2 linked regions of the Homo sapiens genome follow. The protein of the gene in region 1 interacts with the protein of each later gene in a pairwise test. Each region holds a gene or a part of one and is shown in the gene's direction. Other genes may lie near its edges.

Region 1 (11,297 bases):
GAACAATGGTGTGCAGACCACGGCAGGTGGGGGACAAGGAGGGTATTTTTGAAATTATGTTATGGGGGCAGTTGACAGAATGTTAGACAGACCCCAAGCTTTCATATCAGCTTTTACAACAGAGTTGGGAGGATCCAGATGTGGGGTTGCATGGAATTCCCCCAAGTACACATATTTGGGAAGTGAGAAGACAGGAAAGGAGGGACCTAGAAATGAAAAGTAGGATGATTTTGTTAACTGGAGCCAAGGTACAATCATTAGACTAGAATGAACTTAATAGAGGCCCCAAGAGAAAGGGGGTATATTTTATATAGTTTGATAACGGAGGGAAACTAACAGGGAGGCTCCCTGTCTGCAAAGCTCCTGGTCCCTCCCAACAGAGATAAGAGAGTAGTCTTGGTTCAAGAGTTCTCCACAGCAAGTTGGAAATAACAAGGAATCCCAGATGATGATGATCCTGGGGAATGTACTTTAGGTTGCTCTGAGGGCAACCGTGCTTAGGGAAAAAGGATCAGGGGCCACTCTTGTTCCTGTTTTGGCGGAGAGATTTATTACTTGGTAGTAAAGAAGAGAGGAGAGAAGAGAAAATGGTCCATTTCTATCATTATGATGGTAGTTCACAGTGGGAGTGAACTTTCAGCTGAAATGGGAAAAACAAACAATGGTCAAGGTCACAAGTTTCTTGCTTGGCTTTTATTCATTGCATAGGGTTTTGAGCTTTTTGTTTTGTTTTGTTTTGTAAGGGTGGGATACAGAAAGAATGAAAAGATCAGGGACAACCCATAATAACTTTTAAGAAGTATTAATATAATGATTTCCTACATCTTTTACATTTGTTTCAAATTAAATAGATATATATCCACTTACAGCTGAATGTGGTAAAATTTTTAAGAAAAAAATGGTAATGTTGGAGATATCCTTCAGGTCTCTCTCAGCCATAAACAATGTAAGGGGGAGTAGAGGAAGCAGAGGAGAAAGCTAGCTTCACTGCTTTGTGGTCCACAAAGCCTTTATAAATAGTAGTGCCTTTCAGAGGGGAGGATGGGAGATAAAGAAGTTCATTGCATTTAGATGTACTGATATTGCAGCATTTTTTCTTTACTTTAAAATATCTTGTAAATGAAAACATCTGAATATAGGGGTGGGACCAGGAATGTTTGAGTTTCAATCTCAGCTATTCCTGATTCATCTTTTCTTACAGAAAGTCTTTGTTTTTCCTTCCCCAAATGTCCCCATTGGTAAAATGGGAGTTGGGGGATGGGGAAGGAGGGAGGACATTAATCTTACAGGAATGTTGAGAAATAACCTTGGTGGGGACATCTATAAAATACTTTGATTTTTTTAAGTGCTACACACTGCCAGTGCTAAGAATTTTATTGATAGTAACTTTGAACATTCCAGGTTTTCAATATTCACGTCTTTAGATACCAATTATAAACTCATGAGATTAAATTCTGTAAATTGTTTTCAGTTGGAAGTATCAGGTGCTCTTTGTCTAAATGTTATTTGGTCTTAGCCTATAATTTCGATCATTTAAGAGCTTGTCTACCGAAAAGGGTTAGGAGAGCTGATGAAGTCTTATGTCCATAAGTTGTTTTCTCCAGTATTTCTTATGGCAGATGCGAAGAGTAAAATGCCCTTGAAAGCAACTGCTACCTTCCTTCTCAAGCTTTATGCTCTGGAAAAAAGGACAGAGAAGAACCCAACAACCACTTTCTTCACTTGGGAGGGCAGAAGTGAGAAGAAAATATCTTCTCATACCACAATTTATTTTTCACAGCCTCACAGGAATCTAAGAGACAAATTAAATGCACAGGCAAATTAAATGCATAGAAATGAATTGGACTGCTCATTTTTGGAGGACAAACCTTGAATCTTTTTTTTTTTTTTTAGGTGGTTAGGTCTTTTAGGAGTTGCATATTTGCTATCCCATAACCTCCATGATTAGAGCCCACGAGTTAGGCATTACTTTTTTCTTGCCTCTGTGGAAGAGCATGGCAATTTAGATTTGTGAGAATATGAGGGAGCAAATATGATATAAACTAAATTTTGCATTAACTAAAACTTTGTCCCATGCATTTAATACAGGAGGAAATTATTTTGTACGTAAGAGGTCTTTGTAGTAGGGCAAAGTTCAAACTCACCATGTCCTTATTCAGTATGGTCAATGAATTGTGCTGGATGAGTTTCGAGGAATGTAGACCTTCTTCCTTTCTCTCCTGGGTCGCACCTCTGTGGAGTCTGGGTTAGACAAATGCAATATGTGACCTTTCAGTGAATTTATTTATAAAACTGCACCTTGATTTTTCCTCACTATTTAAAGCCTAGGGATGATTTGATGATGAATGATTAAACCCATGGTGGGCTTAGAGACGACAGAGCTCACACACGCTCCATCAAGAAAAGGAAAGCTACTATGTTAATATTTATTTTCTAAAAATATTAAGGCTCTCAGTTGTTTCATTAATTCTAAAGGGTTAAAAAGGGCTGAAATTTGTTTATAGCACTAAATGTTTTTAATAGGAAATTTACTCACATAAAAAATTTAAGCAGAAGTAGTAGAATACAGATTATCATAAAACATATTTTCTATGAAAGGCATTTCTTCCTCATCTTCAATAAATATGAAGAAGTTAGAGGAGAGGAAAAAGCAATCACTCTAAGACAACTTTTCGTCTTTGAGGGACATTATGATAAGCCTGAAATTAATACGCACAGGCTATTGCATTTTTCTGTGAGAAATGTGCCCCTTTGCTGTGAGATTCTAAAATGTGTTCAGATTTAGTTTTTATTCAAATGATCAAGATAACGCATTAGTTAGATAACTGCTATTTCAGATAGTGAGGTTAGCTGAGAAAAGGAAGCATGGTAGAAGAAATGCAAATAACAATTCTTGGAATGCCAACTCCTGAGGCTTAGTTTAACCAAGCTAATTTGTTGGCCCAGGGATGGCCATCATATGAGTTTCCATCAATACCTGACTTCCATCAACAACTGAATCCATGTTCTGGAGTATTACAGAGACTGTTACTATGACCTCAAAGACTGTGGCTACGAATCTGAAGTTAACAAGACATACATCTTCTCTTACTAACTTAAGCCATATCTGTCAACTCTATGTTTGATTTTTCTGACCCTGGTGCTTTTACTTCTGTTTCTGCCAAACTTCAGCCTACTCTATGGGGAAGGTGAGTAAAACTAGTAGTTAGAACAAATATGAAGACTGAAAAAAACTAAACATACTCTTCATAATGAGATCCTGTTCAGAGAACAGTAGTGATCAAAGTGCAAACTGTTGGAAAATATGGATATATGTACATCTGTACATGTATATAGTGTATAATATGTATGTATATGTTATTGCTCATATGCAGAAATCTATCCATTTGCAGACAGCCCAGGTGGGTCAATGTTTCTAATGGAAAACCATTTAGGGCCATTCAAAACCATTAGGGCTAATTTGTGGAGACGAATTCTACTCATTCTGGAATTAATTTGCTGTCTTTTGACATCCACAAAGCCAAACTAACAAAGTGTGAAACATAAAGGGGCCATCATTTAGTTTATTCTGTTTATCTGGACTTATAACTATCTTTACATTTGAACTATTAATAGTTGATTTGCAAACTGTATTGGCATCTCTTGGTTTTGAGTGACCCCTGCCCCCCTCAAGTCTTTTGAGAATTTGGAGTGGGCTTCACTGGCCATTCAGACAAAGGGCCTTATTCATAAGTGGACAGGTTTCCCCATAGGGACCATCGCACATATACATATAAGTACATACTTCCATCAGGCTTGTAACAATTGATTTAAAATCACTCCACAGTATTGATAAATAGCTCTATATTTTCAAGGTGCAGAAGAATTCCACAGCCTTAATTATTTCAGTGTCTTGCTGGTCTGCCTTAAGTGTATCTTCTGGGTTTTTGGTTATTTTATTATTTTTAAATTTTTCTGCTGTTGTTCATTTTGTATGCACACAATGTCGTTTTGTAAAGGTAGGTTGTAAATATTTTATTTGTAAGTCAAAATCACTCATGTGTAATGTTGTAAAGTGATGACCTGCTGTCTTGTTACTGCTACAGTAAATGTTATAAGTTATGGATGAAACTTCAAAATGTACATCTCACATGTTATGCATTCCTATAAATATACTATACTAAAGATACTATATGGTTGTCTCTTTTTTCCTAATTAAACCTTTGTTCAAAGAAAAGAGTAATTTTTTTCTTTCTCCAAATATATGAAAGACTTAGAAAAGGTAAAAATATCACAGGATTATTACAACATGTTTGGCCCAGGATTTTAGAGAGAAAGCAACAATTTTGTGCCCTAGAGTATTCTAAGGCATTTACCCAAAAATGCCAAGGAAACCTCAGAGCCAGGTGTGGTGGCTAGCACCTGTAAATCCTAACACTTTGAAAGGCCAAAGTGGAAGGATCTCTTGAGCCCAGGAGTTTGACACCAGCCTGGACAAAATAAGGAGACACCCACGTCCCCCCAACCCCCCACATATTAAAAATTGTTTTAAAAATATTAACTGAGTGTGTTGGTGCATGCCTGTGATCCCATCTACTTGGGAGGCTGAGGTGGAAGCATCATCTGAACCCGGGAGGTAGAAGCTACAGTGAGCTGTGATTATGCTACCTCACTCTAGCCTGGGCAACAAAGTGAGACCAGACCCTATCTCAAAAAAAAAAAAAAAAAAAAAAAAAAAAAAAAAAAAAAGCCTCGGGTTGTTGTTAATTTCATACTGGTATTTCAGGTGATAATGTTGTTAGACTGTCTGGAGGGTATTTTGGGCTGGATCTCACAAGTTTATACATTCTGGTGTGGACTCCAGCAATTTGGGTTAGCCTATACAGATATGATCAGGCTTTGAAAGTTTAAATGTGCCACCCACGTGCAAATGAGGCTGATTCATGGTATACTGTCAATTAGCCAGAGTGTTAAAGTGTTTTGATTAGCTTATTTTGCCAAGAAAACAAAAACATGTTTTAACATTTGGCTTCTATTTCATTAAGATTTTATTGCATTTATTTGTAATGAGAAACACTTGTCAAAAGCATGGGCTCTTCACATTGGCTCATCAGCACAATCTCCTGAGAAAATATAGATAATAAAGAATATTAGAAATGAAATCAGAATCAGGTTTATGAGTTAAAATCATAAGCCCCTTATGGGCTTTTTTTTTATCTAGAATTTGTATGTATTTTAGCACCTATATAGCTTATGAAGCCCATTTGTAATTAATATTTCATTTAATCCCAACAAATTCTTATGAAGTAAGTTATTTTACTTGGATTAGAGAAAACTGAGTCACAGAATCTAGGTGATTGTTCAAGGTCACTGAGACATTCACTGGAAGATAACTTTTTTTTTTTTTTTGGCACAGGGTCTCACTCTGTCACTCAGGCTGGACTGCAGTGGCATGATCACAGTTCACTGTGGCCTCAACCTCCCAGGCTCAAGTGATATTCCTGCCTCAGCCTCCCCAGTAGCTGGGACCACAAGTGTGTGCCATGATGTCTGGCTAATTTTTTTTATTTTTTGAAGAGACAGAGTCTCATCATGTTACCCAGGCTGGTCTCAAACTCCTGGGCTTCCCATCTCTGCCTCCCAAAGTGCTGGGATTGCAGGCATGAGCCACTGACCTGGCCCTAGAACATAACTTAAAATAAATGTGTATGTGTGTGTTTCAGTGTCTCTGTGTGTGTATAGTGTAGGTCAAACAATAATAAATAATTAAATAACAGTACCTCAGCCTATATTTTTTTGAAGGGGAGTGGTTCAGAGGAATCACCAATATAGTTATGGAATATTAGCAAAAGCCCTAATACAAATGATAATCAGAACCCCACAAGCTCAGTCTAAAATAGATATCAGAGTAGAATACAGAAGGGATTCAGTAAGCAATATAGAGCTAGGTCCATGAAAAGGCTCAGATTGAACTACTGCATGAAATTTTACATTCATGGAAACTCTTTAGGGTAAATACCTAAAATAGTAAGACTAAATATTGGTTAAAGCCAAGATCCTTTACCCAGCCTAAGTAAATGAAATGGAGAACACAAAATGAATTGGTACAATCTATGTTCCTCTGCTTTTTTTTTTGTTGTTGTTGTTGTTTGTTTGTTTGTTTGTTGTTGTTGAGACAGAGTCTCTGTTGCCCAGGCTGGAGTGTAGTGGCATGATCTTGGCTCACTGCAACCTCCACCCCCTCGGGGTTCAAGCAATTCTCCTGCCTCAGCCTCCCAAGTAGCTGGGACTATAGGCATGTGCTACTATGCCCGGCTAATTTTTGTATTTTTTGGTAGAGACGGGGTTTCATCATGTTGACTGGGCTGGTCTCGAACTCTCAACCTCAGGTGATCCACTTCCCTCGGCCTCCCAAAGTACTGGGATTACAGGCATGAGCCACCACACTCAGCTCTACCAACTTTTTATCAAGTGTTTTTGAGTGAACTATCTTATTGAATCTTCATAGTGATTTTTGGAGAAAGTTAATATTATTATCTTCATTCTTTTTTTTTTTTTTTGAGCGCAGTCTGGCTCTTTCGCCCAGCCTGGAGTGCAGTGATGCGATCTCGGCTCACTGCAAGCTTTGCCTCCCGGGTTCACACCATTCTCCTGCCTCAGCCTCCCGAGTAGCTGGGACTACAGGCGCCTACCACCATGCCCAGCTAATTTTTTTGTATTTTTAGTAGAGACGGGGTTTCACCATGTTAGCCAAGATGGTCTTGATCTCCTGACCTCGTGATCCGCCCGCCTCAGCCTCCCAAAGTGCTGGGATTACAGGCGTGAGCCACCGCGCCCGGCTTCTTCATTCTATTTTTGAGAAAATTGAGACTCATATAGCTCAAAATGCATTGCCAAAGATCACTCAGCCAGTAAGTAGAATGGGACTAAAATCCAAATGTTTTGGTTTGAAACTTCATGTTCTTTGTAGTGCACTATACAGCTATGCCTTATCTGTTCCTCTTTTTTAAAAAAGTATTTGTTATAGTTGACACATGATATCGTACACATTTATTGGGTACATAGTGCTATTTCAATACACACAATGTACAGTGATCAAATCAGAGTAATTCATATATTCCTCACCTTAAATATTTATCCTTTCTTTGTGTTGGGAACATTCAAACGCCCCTCTTCTAGCTATTTTAAAATATATAGTAAATTATTATTGACTACAGTCACCCTACAGTGCAATGGAACACTAGGACTTATTCCTCCTATCTAGCTGTAATTTGTGTCCTTTAACCACCCCCTACCCTTCCCAGCCTCTAGTGATTACTATTTTATTCTCTAGCTCCATGAGATCAACTTTTTTAGCTTCTGCATATGAGCGAGAACATTTGGTATTTATCTTCCTGTTCCTGGCTTGTTTCACTAACATAATGTCCTTCAGGTTCATCCACCTTGCTGCAAATGACAAGGTTTCATTCTTTATGTGAATTTAAGGGTTATTTTCCTTAAGCTAGAATAAAGTATTGCCTTATATACACAATGGAGAAGGGATTTATTTGTACAGATTATTTATTGATTATTTCTTTAAGGGATTTATTTGTAAAGACCAAATATGTTTGGATTTTCAGATTGTCTAGCAATATTATCCTCCTGGATAACCCTGATACCAATCAATTAACCGTCTTCTAACTCTCCTCCTTCCCTCCCTTACCTTTTCTACACCTATTACCTAAGCATTTGAGGTACGCCAAAGGAAATAAAAAAGTACTCCTCCAGGAAGCAGAGTACAGACAAAAGAGGTAATGAATACTGTAATGATCTAAGTGCTATATATTCCTATGTGCAAACTGCTATGGAACTGTCACGTACTAGATGCTATGAAGTTAATAAAAGAATTGAGTAAAGGTCCCTGTCTTTGATAACTTATATTCTATTTGGAGAAACATGGGGGGTAAATCTTGGCTAATAACTAGCAAATATAACATGTTAGGCCAAGGAGTAGAGATAATTAAGAGAACTAGTCGAGAAGGCATTGGCTATTAAAAAATGGACAGGATTTATGCAAACTCTCATGAAAGGTGGGACTTCATGATCCTACAGTCAATCTAGCTGTTCTGGGCTTTGAACCCCAGCGACCCCATCCAGAAGAAACCAGGAGAAGCACAAACTGGCGCTAGGTTCGCTACCATCCACCTGACCCTTGAGCCCGGGGAAACCCACGGGTGCAGCAAGCCGGGAAAGCTGCAGACGAGGCAGGCGGAAGAGGCGGGACTTCGCGGGTGACGTCATCGGGGCGCCGGAGGCCCGGGGCGCCTGGGAATTTGAAGCAAACAGGCAGCGCGCGACAATGGCGGTCGCTCGTGCAGCTTTGGGGCCATTGGTGACGGGTCTGTACGACGTGCAGGCTTTCAAGTTTGGGGACTTCGTGCTGAAGAGCGGGCTTTCCTCCCCCATCTACATCGATCTGCGGGGCATCGTGTCTCGACCGCGTCTTCTGAGTCAGGTGCTGGCCTAGGAAGGGAAAGGACAGGGCTTGGTGGCGGGAAGGAGGACAAGGAAATGGAAGAGGGTGACAGGAGTTGGGCCGTGAGTGAGAGCAAAAGAGCCAAGCAGGCAGACCGACCCTACTCTTGGTTTGGGGAGTAAGCATGAGAAGCACAGAGGCCAGGGGTTGGGCTCCTCGAGAGTCGTCTGTTCTTTCACCCACACGCTTAGACACGTGTTTTGCAAAAGTCGGGAAACCCAGTTTGGAACGCTTTCTGGCACTGAAGCACACTTGAATGAATTCTGTATATTTAACTCTTTAAGAAAATTAGACTTGCGGCCGGGCGTGGTGCCTCATGAGAGTAATACCAGCACTTTGGGATGCCTAAGTGGGCAGATCACCTGAGCCCCAGGAGTTCGAGACCAGCCTGGGCAACATGACGAGACCCCGTCTCTACAAAAAATTAGCTGGGTGTGGTGGCGCACGCCTGGGACGCTGAGGTGGGAGGATCACCTGAGCCTGGGAGGTCAAGGCTGCAATGAGCTGTCATTGCGCCACTGCACTCCAGCCTGGGCGACAAGTGAGACCCTGCCCTCAAAAAACAAACAAATAGACCGGGAAAACGTGGGTAGGCAGAGAATTCAGTAGCTGGGAAATTACTGGTGAGAAAAGGAAAATAGAACAACCAGAACTCTGTGATGTATACAAAATTTATCAGAGCCCAGAGAGACTTCAACCATACTCCCCTATGCAGCCCCGGGACAATTATTTAAAGGAATTTTGTCCCTGACTAGCTGCCTCTCCCATTATCTTAATGTACCTGGAATGTGTGATACAAAGAACAATGTATAGCTAATCAATCGCTTGTGTTATTATTTTATTTATTTATTTTTTAGATGGGATCTCTCTTACGTCACCCAGGCTGGAGTGCAGCTCTGTGATCATAGCTCACTGCAGCCTGGAACTCCTGGGCTTAAGAGATCTTCTTGCCTCGGGTGAGCACAGGGGCTCATGCCTGTAGTCCCAACTTTGGGAGGCTTTCTTTGGGAGGCTGAGGCGGGTGGATCACTTAAGGTCTGGAGTTCGAGACCAGCCTGGCCAACATGGTGAAACCCTGTCTCTACTGAAAATGCAAAAATTAGCTGGGCATGGTGGTGCACACCTGTAATCCCAGCTACTCAGGAGGCTGAGGCAGAAGAATCAGGAGGTTGCAGTTAGCCGAAATTGAGCCACTGCACTCCAGCCTGGGCAACAGAGGGAGACTGTCTCAGAAAAAAAAAAAAAAAAGAGATCCTCTTACCTCAACCTCTGAGTAGCTGGAACTACAGGCATGTGCCATCATGCCCACCAAATTAAAAATTTTTTTTTTTTGTAGAGAGGAGGTCTCACCATACTGCCCAGGCTCGTCTCAAACTCCTGGCCTCAAAAGATCCTCTTGCCTTGGCGGCTTCCCAAGTAGCTGGGACTACAAATGCCTGGTGCCACCCCCGGGCTACCTCCTGTTATTTCAATGCAAATTCTTGGTGAATATAGGAACTGCCCCTTCTTTTGCTTTAAAAATCCACTTGTAACTACTGTAATCGAAGCCTATAGTCAGGGCAACTACTCATATTAATTTTGCCTCAGCCTCTTCCTGTTAGGTCCACACTTGGAAGGGCTGTTTGGAAAGGGGAGTTGAATTTTGCACTGTGCGGCCAGAAGCAATAATTAAGACTAGAAGGTGGACATATTGGGAAAGCAGGTTTTTAGTCAATATAAGGAAAATTTTTGTACAAATTAGAGGTTTCTAATACAGTGCTTCTCAACTTTGAGTATATATGAATTACCTGGGAATTTTGTTAAAATGCAGAATCCATTTCTGTAGCTCTGAGACTAGACCTGAGGTTGTGCATTTCTAACAAAGTGCCAGCTGAAACTGCAGACCACACTGAGTAGAGGGCCGTAAATATGCTTTCCAATACAGTTTGCTACTAGCCACGTGTTACTATTGAGCATTATGAATTTTTAAGTTTAAATAGTCATATATGGCCAGTGGCTATCATATTGGACTGCAAAGATAGAGAACATTTCCATCATTGCAGAAAGTTCTATCAAGAAGACATATAAGTTTCCTCAGCCCACTTAAGGGTTTATGTTCACTAGGGACCACTTTGTGTGGTTATTGTAAAAAGTATTGAAGATAGGTTGGACTATTAAGGTTGCGGTACTTTGGACCATTAACTTCTCACCATCCAGAATCTTGCTATGGTGTATCTTAGCAATGTGGAGAATTACTAAGGATTTTCTAGGGAAAAATTGATTTATTTTAATAAGCCAGCTGATAAATGACAGAAAAAGTTTTTTGATAACTAGATCATGGTGTGTGTGTGTGTGTGTGTGTGTGTGTGTATTTTGGTGATTAACTGGGGAGGAGTTCAAAACATGGAGAGACTTGGGTATAACAAAACTTCTTTTCACATCTTATGCGAATAGAATTTCTCAGTATTTACACCCCAAAAAGCAATATAATTTATGCTAAACTCTAACTTCCCTTAATAAGTGATAATAAGTGATATTTGACTATAGTACTATATACACATTAGTGTACATAAAGTAATTGGAGAGGAAAGGTAGCATTAACTCACTAAAAATGCATTTTCCAAATCTGTTTTTATCTCTCTGTCAAAATTTGCAAATCATGTTTGAATTAATCATATGCTTGTTATAATTTAATGATATACAGAAGAATTCTCTTCTTTAAAAAGTACAATTTCCATTTTCTTTTCCTCAAGAGAATAGTTTCTCTTCAGTCCTTAAGGATTCAGCTCCTTACATGGGCTTTGGTGAGGGTCATGAGGCAGCA
Region 2 (11,308 bases), on another chromosome or scaffold:
AGCTCAAAGTCCCAGAAAAATGGCTCTGTAGCATATAGGAACAACCTGAAGCCGGATCCAGTATTCTCCACATCCACTTTCAGTGGAAAGGCTTGATGTTGATGAAGTGGGGAAATTCAGTATGGCGTAGGTATAAGGTGATGTTGACAATGATCATTTTATTGGGTATGATAATAGCAGTGGTTTACGTAGTGTTTAGAAATGCTGTGGGACAGACAAAATCTTTGTCTCCCCTCCCCTCCACCTAAGCAGCGAGTATTAGTAGTACACGGTTCTTGGGATGATGACAGCGGTTGGCTGGCATCCAGAGTAAGATAGAGGCAAACATGCCCTTTAGATGTTAGACAGCAGACAGTTAAGATGGTGGGGGAGAAGGTGAGCAGAGAGAGAAGGTCATCGGGTTTGAGGAGAATAGAAGATTTTCAAATAGGTGATTCATAGATAGGGAAGACTTTGGGTTTCTGGCTTGAGAGGTGGATGCCTGATAAAATGCCGAGCTGGCCTTCCTCAAGTCCTGGGTGGTGACAGTGCCTTGTAACTGAACAGCAGCTGCCCGTTAGGAGCTCTTGGGCCTGCTTCAGTGCCCACCGCTCCATGTCACCTTGTTGGGTCCCGGAGGAAAACAGGCCTGCCACTGACCATGGGTCTTGGGGGTGGTTGGGAATGTGTGGCTGAGGAAATGGGGAGAAGGCCACCAAGATGAGGAGGTCCAAGAGCTGCAAGGCCAGGGATTGTCCAGGTGGGTGCCCATGAGAGCGCTGGGGTCAGCCGAGTTTAGGGAAAAGGTAGATGCACAGAAGGAGCCAGCTCCAGCACCGCCCAATGCTGAGGGTGCCGGCCCTGGTCCCTGCACATCCGCGTCCAGGCAGGTGGGCGGGATAAAGCCACAGGGCACAGCCTCAGCCACAGAGCAGCAAAGTGACGATCACACAGTCGTCCTGAGAGCCAGAGGATGTCATGACAGGTAGAAAGTAAAGGCCATAAAGAATGACAGGCTAGAGGCAAAGAGGATTCTAGCATTTTTGACCTCAGTCATGAGAAGAGTGATGATACTGCTGAGGTGGAGGAATTGAGAAGGTGACCCAGTCCTGGCAGGAAGACTGCGGCCACGCAGTGGACCTGTCCTGTCAGCAGTGGGATATGCGAGATATGGGCCGTAAAGATCTCTCTCATAGGGTTGGTGTGAGAAATCATGGATTAAGCCTCTGGCACTTCGAGAAATGGCTACTTTCTCACTTTCTTTAGGTGAGAAATTATGGACAGAAGTCATCCATTTGAAATAGGAAATTTTCTTTGCTTTTCATTTATCTGTGGTGTCAAAAAGTGTTGGTCAGTTACTGCTGGTTAGTTACTACTTATTTCTAATATATATGTTTTGGTTGTTTTTTGAGACAGAGTCTCACTCTGTTGCCCAGGCTGGAGTGCAGTGGTGGGATTTCTGCTCACTGCAAACTGCACCTCCCTGGTTTAGGCGATTCTCTTGCCTCAGCCTCCTGAGTAGCTGGGATTACAGGTGCCCATTACCACGCCCGGCTAATGTTTGTTCATTTTTATTAGAGACGGGTTTTTGCCATGTTGGCCAGGCTGGTCTCGAACTCCTGACTTCAGGTGATCTGCCTACCTCGGCCTCCCAAAGTGCTGGGATTATAGGTGTGAGCCACCGTGCCTGGCCTTATTATGTTTTTCAAATACAATGGATGTTGGTTTAAATATAAAGTTCCTTAAGTTTGTATTTGGATATAGAGACAAAATAATTTACTTTGAAATGGAAAGAATTGACTGCAGTAGGGAGTTTGGGCACATCTCTGCACTGGAAATTGTCCTTAGGAGACAAATTTGATATACTCAGCTGTGTGCTCTAGCGGTGGAAAACTGAGAAGGCTCCATCCATTTCTAGTGAGTGAATGGATTTGATCACTAGTGAGAAGAATTGCGGAGATTTTCTGAGAGACTTTCAGCAATGCAAGAGAACATAAGGACGTTTTACTTCTAGATGTGAAGAAAATGACTGAAACTTTAGAAATATGAGACAGATTTAGTTGAACATTAGATTGTTGGGGGGAGTGTAACTTACCATCAAAATCCTGTTTAAATTGCAAATTTATAGTGGTTAGAAGCCATGTGATGTGTATCATACTGCTTTCTATATATGGCATTCAGTAACTCAGTATTAATGTAAATGAGGATTATGACAGTTGTGATGGAAAAATTTAAACTTGACATTCATTCAGAATTGTTTGTAGTATAGCACAATTACGTAATTGAGCAATTAAGATTCTTTTTCTTACGTTCTCCAGGACTAACATGTTTCCAGCCAGAGGCAGATCAGATGGTTGAAAAAGTGATCGGATGAATGTGGTAGGGGTTTTGGGAGGCATCTCGATGGCTGGCCTTGCAGATTTCTCCTCTCCATCCAGGCCTGCACCTCTCGCTTCCTCAAGTGGAGAAGGTTCCAGGCCAACGGCCATCTTCATTCCTAGCCGGGACTCTTGTCCTGAATCTCCATCTGTTCTTCTCCCTTAATGGGGTGGGTCAGCAGTGGATGAAGACCCATCTTAACTCAAGCCCGTAGTAGAAACAGCTGTTAAGTTGCCTCCTGTCAGCAGTGGATGGGCTGGGTCAGCAGTGGATGAGGACCCATCTTAACTCAAGCCCGTAGTAGAAACAGCTGTAAGTTGCCTCCTGTCCTACCTAGGCCTCCCTCAGCCCTCTGAGATCAGATGGAGCACTTTCTGCAGGCAGCAGACCCTGCTGAGTCCTCTTGGCCAATCTGAAAAATAGGAGCCTCTGGCCTCTGTGCTGTCCTGATGTCTGCTGCTGTGTTTGTCTAGGTCCTGTGCCTGTTCCTGAGCTCCCTTCCACCTGGGCTTGGCAGGTACAGAGAGGCGGGGAGCAGCATTTGGTAATGACTAGTTCAGCCCTGTCCACCTGCAGACGGGCATTTATTTCTTTACCATCCCTCAGAGTTCCATGGGCTGTTTACATATGAGGGTGAAAAAGTAATATGTGTACAAAATTCAAAAATTCAAATGATACCAAAGGACAGAGTGAACAGTTAAACTCTCAGCCCCCCTCCCACCCCTCGCTGCTGTTTACCTTCTCAAGAGGCAGCCGCTGTTTCCAGCAGTTTGCCGTGTAGGGCTCATGGCTGGTGCCCACCAGGCAGGCAGGTGCCCCACACGTGCATGCTTCTTAGGGGGTGTTTGCACAGCACCAAATGCTGCTGGGCTCCATGGGGTGGCATGTTGTGGGGTGAATTGTCCCATCTTCTTTTCTGGATTTTTAAAAATACTTTTAAATATGGAGATGAAACAGTTGTCTTATTATTTTGTTTAAAAGACATTTTTCTGCTTAGAGTTCCACTCAGGTGTTTCTGAAGTCTTGAATCCTTTTATAGAGATGTCTCATACATAAGGTGATTTTAGAGATGGGTGTGCCCAAGCTCTTGATTTTGACTTATTTCAATTCTAAACTCCCTTATTTATTACTAAATCCAAAATCTGTTACCCTTGCAGGTCATATAATCTTTGCAATTTGGAATCTGTTTAAGTGAAAGATACATGTTAGAATATGTTTGAGATTTTGGTATAGTTCTGATATGTGTTAAATTCCTAGAATTTTATTTAAATTTTAAATGCTTTTAATAGGGTTAAAAGTTGTATGGATTGAGTTAAGTAAAATCTATTTTTACTGATTTCCATGACCATAAGAAGTTGGTTTCAAATTTTTGTTGCTTGAGCATGTTGAACAAAATTCATTGTATAATGTGTATCTCTTGTTGTATTCAGTGCCCTATAGGATATTAAAAAAATAACTTACTCTGCTTGGTGGGCATCTGCTGGTCACCGTCCTTCTCCTACTCCTCAGCGTACACAGAACTCTCAGCTTATTCCCTGTCATTGTGAAGCAGAAAGAGCTAGAAGACAAATAGTCTGGTTTGAATTCTTTTTTTCTAGCTTGAAATATTTTTGTGTCCCCCATGAAGACTCAGTCATTTTTGAGGAAGCATCATTTCCCAGCTCTAATGATGAGTCCTTAGTTGGGAGGAACATCACCATTTAAACAGCCCCGGTGGTGTCTTAGCTGGCCTCCTTTTCCATAGCATGCCAGTGCACATAGCAAGTTGACAGTGGAGCGAAAGGCTCTTGGACTCACAGCTTGGGTCATGCTGCTTTCATCTGGAAGGTGATCCACTGAGAACCTTTGTTTACTAGACTCTGGGCTGTAAGACAAGAGGAAATGGGAAGTGGCAGCTGTGGCGAGAAGGTTTGAGGTGAGGCTGAGCCCGATTACCAGATGCCTTCACCACCTGTCATTCCTCAGTGCATTCCTGGGCCAGGAGAGGGTCTGCGGAGCTGATGCAGGCGATGGGCAGTGGAGTGGTGCCGCAGCACGGTGCAGGGAGCACCAAGGCTTAGCTACCAGGTGTGCACAGGACTCCCATGCCCTGCTCTGGCAAACACATCAGCCGTCTGAGTCTTTGTCACTTTAATTCGTTAGTTTACTCCATTTTACTGATGTAGTTTCAAATTTTGGTGGTCTCAATATATGAATTTACTTTACGATATTGGCGTTACAAAATAAATACAAAAGAAAATGCAGTATTGTTTTTGCAGTTTCCAATCATTTGCTGTGTCTACTTAGTTGAATATTGTTAATAAATAGGATATGCCATTCTCTTGACTAAGAAATTATCATTCATCTGTTTCAGGAACTGTTGATAATGTTTCACCTAACTTTTGTTTTGTAGATCTTACAGACTCTTTCAGCACCTACGAAAAATTTAGAACAGCAGGTGAATCACAGCCAGCAGGGACATACAAATGCCAATGCAGTGCTGTTTAGCCAAGTGAAAGTGACTCCAGAGACACACATGCTACAGCAGCAGCAGCAGGCCCAGCAGCAGCAGCAGCAGCACCCGGTTTTACACCTTCAGCCCCAGCAGATAATGCAGCTCCAGCAGCAGCAGCAGCAGCAGATCTCTCAGCAACCTTACCCCCAGCAGCCGCCGCATCCATTTTCACAGCAACAGCAGCAGCAGCAGCAAGCCCATCCGCATCAGTTTTCACAGCAACAGCTACAGTTTCCACAGCAACAGTTGCATCCTCCACAGCAGCTGCATCGCCCTCAGCAGCAGCTCCAGCCCTTTCAGCAGCAGCATGCCCTGCAGCAGCAGTTCCATCAGCTGCAGCAGCACCAGCTCCAGCAGCAGCAGCTTGCCCAGCTCCAGCAGCAGCACAGCCTGCTCCAGCAGCAGCAGCAACAGCAGATTCAGCAGCAGCAGCTCCAGCGCATGCACCAGCAGCAGCAGCAGCAGCAGATGCAAAGTCAGACAGCGCCACACTTGAGTCAGACGTCACAGGCGCTGCAGCATCAGGTTCCACCTCAGCAGCCCCCGCAGCAGCAGCAGCAACAGCAGCCACCACCATCGCCTCAGCAGCATCAGCTTTTTGGACATGATCCAGCAGTGGAGAGTTAGTAATGGAGATTATTTTTCCTCTCTCCTAAAAGTCTTGTACCCACATAAATGCTTTGAGAGTGTTTGAGTGTGGGGTGAGGATTCATATCAAAACAATTACTACAAAATGGAGAGTGTGAGTCTCATACCTAACAAAGAATATAGTTACCATGGGATAATTATGCTTTCTTTTGTACTTTGGGACATCATATCCTGAAGTGAATATTGGTGTCCCGTAGAACATCTAGGCTGCCACAGGGACTCATTCAGGGTATTTAATGGCCAGGCATGAGTTACCTTGGTTTTAGTTTTTAATGATCATTTGATGTAGACAGTTAAATAGTATCTTCGTAGCAATATTCCCTATGCACTCTGATTACTGGCAGATACGTCATGGTCAAGACTGATAAACATAACAGATTGACATTGTGAGGCGCCACTTTTTAACTTTTGTGCAAGCATATTCATAGGGTTTTAATTTTCTTTTTCTTATGTAATTTTACTCTAGTTCCAGAAGAAGGCTTCTTATTGGGATGTGTGTTTGCAATTGCGGATTATCCAGAGCAGATGTCTGATAAGCAACTGCTGGCCACCTGGAAAAGGGTGAGATTGTGCCTGGAGGAAGGATGACTGTGTCTGAAGATGCTTCTTTCTTATGTAGATGTAACTGTGTTCACTTAGCTGCATTCACTGAGCTGCACCTGCACGTGTTCTGAATGTGTGACGGGCATTTTGATTAACATTCTGTGTGACCTGAGGCACAGCACTTTTCTGGGCATCAGTTTTCTCAGCTGTTAGATGAAGATGGTGGACTTTTTATTTTTTTCAGCTTGGAAATTCCAGGGGGCACTAATTATATGTGTATAATTGGGGCAATGGAAATAAGTTCAGGGTTTTGGTGTCCTGGGAGAGGGACTATTAATTTGTATGCATCTCAGTCATTTCTCTTTCTCCAAAGGTAACTGTTAGAAAATCCTGGAATCTCTAGAACCTCAAATTCTTCCAGCCCAATTGTGAAACTGGAGTTAATTTAATTATGTATTATCATGCATGGTGGCCTTTAAAGAAAAGAAATACTTTTTCTTGCATTCCCCAAAACAAAACTGAGTCAAAAAATTTTTTTTATAAAAACCGAGTTTAAATATGCCTCTAATATATCTTGAATGTGCTTCACTATAAACATCCCTAGTGCTTAAATCCCTGCTATGTGCCAAGCATGCTGCAAGACTTAGGGAATATGTGCGAAATCACAGAGACGGAGAAAACGGAAGAGCAGTGCGAGAGGCAGCCACACGGCTAAGCAGAGGTGGGGTGGCAAATGCAGGCTGTTGTGAGAGCCTGAGAAAGGACCTTCACCCATCGTGTTGTGGGGTGATGTGTTAAGAAAAGTCTGCTGGGAGAGGTGATTCCTGAACTGCTTATAGGATGAGTAGGAGTGAGAATTAGGGGGGAGGATTTTCCAAATAGTGCAGCACAGCCAAAGGCATGTGATTGGTGAAACTGACAGGAGGGTGCAAAGGAGGGTGCCTCAGTGGGATCCACGAGGCAGGGGTTGGGGCAGGAGCCAGGGCTGGTGTGTCTTCCAAGACCTTGTTGGTGTGCCATGTGGTGAAGTTTAGATGCAGGTGAAGTGATCAGCTGTGCATTTTAAATAGTAAAGGGTTGAATCTGAGGGTGACCAGGGAGATGACTGTGTGGCTGGCTGAGGAAAGAGGCGGATGGCATGTGCCAGGGTGAGGAAGGAAGGGAGCAGTTCTGAGAAGGACAGCAGCAGAGATTTTTTAAAAGTCAGAAGTGTTCGAAGGCAGCACTGAGAAACTGTCTTGAGAAGTACAACAAAACTCAAAGATACAAAAGTTAGTGGAGAAAAGTTTGGGGTTTTTGTCTTGTTTTCAAGTTAAAAGATTTATCCAAGAGGTCTAACATTAAATAGGATCTTGGGAACAGAGAAAATGAAGGCAAGAACATTATGAAAGAAAATAGCTTTGCAACTGAAGGCCATGTGCCCTCAGGTTGAAAAGAAATGTAAGGAGAGCCATGATAAGGCAACTGGGAACATTCACAATGCTGGTAGAGAAAACTGTTTTCTCTCAAAGACAAGCTCACTGGAGGGGAAACGTGGACAGATCAGGAGTCTGGGTGATTTCGGGAGCCTCCAGTGCAGTGCGCGGGGGCCAGCAATGGAGCAGCTTCTTCCATTTTTGAGGGAAAATAATTTCCAACCTAAAATAACCTATAGAGCCTATCAGTCATAAGACTATGGAAGGAGGATATTTGTAGACTAATGGTAAAAAATGTACCTCCCTTATATTCTTTCTTAGGAAGCCACTATGCCAGCAGAGAGTGAAACATGGTAGCCAGGAAATGAGGCATTTGACTCAGAGATTGAAAGAGAGTTCCTAGGATGGAGGTAAAGGGAAACGCCAATAGATGAGAAAGTAGGTGTCGAGAGAACTAGACCTGGGACCGGAAGAGAGACTTCCAGGAGGAGCAAGCAAACGAAAACACTGGTAGATTGAGGAGAGACATGTACCGCTGACCCCTGAACAGTGTGGGGCCTAGGGGTGCTCACCCCCATGCAATCAGAGATCTGTACATCACTTTTGATTCCCGAAAACCCAAATTACTAATAGCCTGGTGTTAACCAGAAGCCTTACTGATAAACAGGCAATTAACGCATATTTTGTATATGTATTACCATATTCTTACAATAAAGTAAGCTAAAGAAAAGAAAATGTTATTAAGAAAATCATAAGGAAGAGAAAATATATGTACTATTCATTAAGGGGAAGTATATCATCATAAAGGTCTTCATCCTCGTCGTTTTCACGATGAGTGGGCCTAGGAGGAGGAGGGACAGGAGGGGCTGGTCTTACTCCCTCAGGGGTGGCAGAGGTGGAAGAAAATCCAGCTATCAGTGGACCCACACAGTTCACACCTGTGTTGCTTAAGTATAGGTGATACTACATTCATTTTCTCTTGCTGTGTAACAGATTATCTCAAAACCCAGTGGCTTAAAACAATAAACATTACCTCTCAGTTTGGTCGTGGGTCAGAAATCCTGCAACAGCTTGGCAGGGCGGTTGTGGCTCAGCTATCTCCTGAGGTTGCAGTCAGGATGCCAGCGGAGGCTGCAGGAGCCCCTTCCAGGATGGTTCCGTCACATGGCTGTGGGCTGGAGGCCTCAGCTCCTCACCACAGAGGCTCTCCAGAGGGCTGGTTGTGTGTCTTCACAGCATGACAGCTGGCTCCCTTCCCCAGGGGGTGTGACCCAAGATAGAGGGAAAACCCGCAGCGTTATGGTGTCTTTTGTGACTGAGTTATGGGAGACTCCCACTGTCAATTCCACCATATTAAGTGACTAAGTCTAGACCATATTTAAGGCTAGGGGAGTAAAGCTCCAACTCTTAGAGGGAGGAGTATACAGTAATTTGCAGACATATTATAGAACCACCATATGTACATTTTTCATAGAGTTTGGGAATGAAATAGTAAAAGGTATATAGAAAACTAAGAAAAGGGAAAATTCTGGGGGGCTGGGATGAGGAAGTGATTAGCACCAGGGAAAACCAAAGTTTATACCAGAAAGGAACTCTAATCTTAGGCTGCCATATTAAGCCATGTGGCTGGGCTACATTGTGTTAAGTCACTGATGAATGATCTAAACAAGAGTCTGGATATAACCAAATCAGGAAGGCTTGAAGAATGTGTGTGTTATTGGGGGGAACGGTGTCCACAGTAGGAGGTAGATGGTTATGTAAAACTAGAGAAAAGGAACTAATATAAAGTGTTAGTTGGAATATATTAATAATTGTCAGTGGAAACAGCTTAAAGTGCTAAATGTGCTTCAGGGGAGTGAAAAGCAGGGATGGGTGAGGAACCTGTGGTTTTGTCCTGTGCCTCATTAAACTATATTTATGCTTAGCCATAGGAAAAATAAACATTCACATCTTAAAAGTAGTAAGTGAAAGAATCGGTTTTCTTAGGGGGCAGGTCTTTTTAAAGTTTATATTTCACCTAATAGGCCGTCAGATTCTCCTTTTTCCATGTACAATATTTTGAGTTCTGAAGAATGTCCAGGGTCGTGCAGCTGTCACAGCCCGGACACAGAGCAATTCCTTCCCCCAGAAAACCAGATGTGTTTTGAGAAGAAACTGTTGGGATTTACTAATTTCATTCTGATTTGCTTTTTATTTCCCTTTTTAAGGGAGGTGGATCTGCCCACCATAGACCTTTGGCAGTATCTGAAGATCTTTAGTAGTCGCGGCTAGGGGGCTGCTGCTGGCATAGGGTGGGTAGAAGTTGGGGACACTGCCAAACATCCTCCTCTGTACAGGACAGCCCCCACTTCCCAGAACTCCCTGGTCCAGAGTGGCAGTTACATTGAGCTTGAGAAGCCCTGGAGTGCATTCCATTGTTCTTCTCTTGTATCCTGGGAATTCAGATTAAATTTAGAGTATTGGAGTTCATTTTCATTGTATGGTGCTGGGTAGAAAAGTCCGTAAATAGAACTGTTACATGTCCTTGATACTTTGAGGAAATACATGATATAAATATATGATAGAGTCTTTTAATAGCTGCCTTATTTGAAATTGGAATTCTCCTCTATTCTGAGTGATTGATGACTGCATTGGTCGGGTCTTTGTGTGTAGATAATCCAGGCACATGGCGGCACTGTTGACCCCACCTTCACGAGTCGATGCACGCACCTTCTCTGTGAGAGTCAAGTCAGCAGCGCGTATGCACAGGTAAGGAAAATAGCCTTAGCTGCGACCAGGAGCAAGGTCTGGCATTTTTAATATGCAATCTTAAATGCTAGTGATTATTATTTTTGGAAAGAACTTTTTTCTACCTCTAAAGATAGGAAAATTCCTTCTTCCTGTGATCGAATCTTTGGTGGGATTGATATCTTTTGTGGGCACCATTGTCTTTGAGCAATGGAGAAAGAAAGGGATGTTCCCAGGTGGTGTTAAGAAAGGGCGGACAGGAGGCCGAGGTGGACGGGTCACGAGGTCAGGCGTTTGAGACCAGCCTGACCAACCTGGTGAAATCCTGTCTCTACTAAAAATACAAAAATTAGCCAGGTGTGGTGGTGCGCAGCTCTAATCCCAGCTACTCAGGAGGCTGAGGCAGGAGAATTGCTTGAACCCAGGAGGTAGAGGTTGCAGTGAGCCAAGATTCCACCACTGCACTCCAGCCTGAGTGACACAGCGAGACTCCATCTCAAAAAAAAATAAAAGAAAGAAAGGGCGGACACTCCCTGCAGTCACCATTCCAGCTGCTCTCTGTGCACGGTGAAGGGACGCAGGATTCTGTACTGGTGTGTGACTTGCACACAAGCGTGTAAAGACCAGGTCCCTTACAGAGCTTTTCTAAAACTACCGGGGTGCAGGCTTTCTCCTCAATATTACCTTCCTGTGCTCTCTGAAGTTTCATTTCTTTTCAAAAAATAATGCTTATTGTAGACAGATTATATATATATGTGACAAATGACTTCCAAGACACCCCTCTTAAAGAGGATAGCCATTCACAGGATCTGCTTTTCCTGTAAAAATGTGGAAATACTTCTGAGACTTTTTTTTGTTTTCCTGTGGTTCATCTTAGGTGGATGGTTTTTTGTATTTTTTCTTATGTGGGGCCCTCTGTCCTTATGGGGCACTTTTAACTTTGGTGGTCACACATGTTGTTTCAGTCATCACTGAAGTTATTTTTAAGGTTGTTGTAGAATTTGTTGCTTTTGTAGACTCTTGTTTGCAGATGGATAGTAACATTTTTAGGTTGTATTTCAAGTAACCAGCTACACGGTTTTAATTCGTTACTTTAATCAAGTGCTAGATGTCATGAAATTCT

The links.
Region 2: the proteins of UMPS (region 1) and PAXIP1 interact in a two-hybrid assay, tested with the Homo sapiens proteins (one study listed by BioGRID and IntAct).

Annotation. Positions count from the first base shown.
Region 1 is NC_000003.12:124,722,155-124,733,451, forward strand, and holds the start of UMPS (uridine 5'-monophosphate synthase), read left to right. Parts: upstream 1-8,297; 5' UTR 8,298-8,317; coding exon 8,318-8,473; intron 8,474-9,351; exon of another isoform or gene 9,352-9,450; intron 9,451-10,284; exon of another isoform or gene 10,285-10,362; intron 10,363-11,297. UniProt on the Homo sapiens protein: Bifunctional enzyme catalyzing the last two steps of de novo pyrimidine biosynthesis, orotate phosphoribosyltransferase (OPRT), which converts orotate to orotidine-5'-monophosphate (OMP), and orotidine-5'-monophosphate decarboxylase (ODC), the terminal enzymatic reaction that decarboxylates OMP to uridine monophosphate (UMP).
Region 2 is NC_000007.14:154,962,569-154,973,876, reverse strand, and holds part of PAXIP1 (PAX-interacting protein 1), read left to right. Parts: exon of another isoform or gene 1-2,670; intron 2,671-3,788; exon of another isoform or gene 3,789-3,823; intron 3,824-4,750; coding exon 4,751-5,474; intron 5,475-5,966; coding exon 5,967-6,061; intron 6,062-10,110; coding exon 10,111-10,206; intron 10,207-11,308.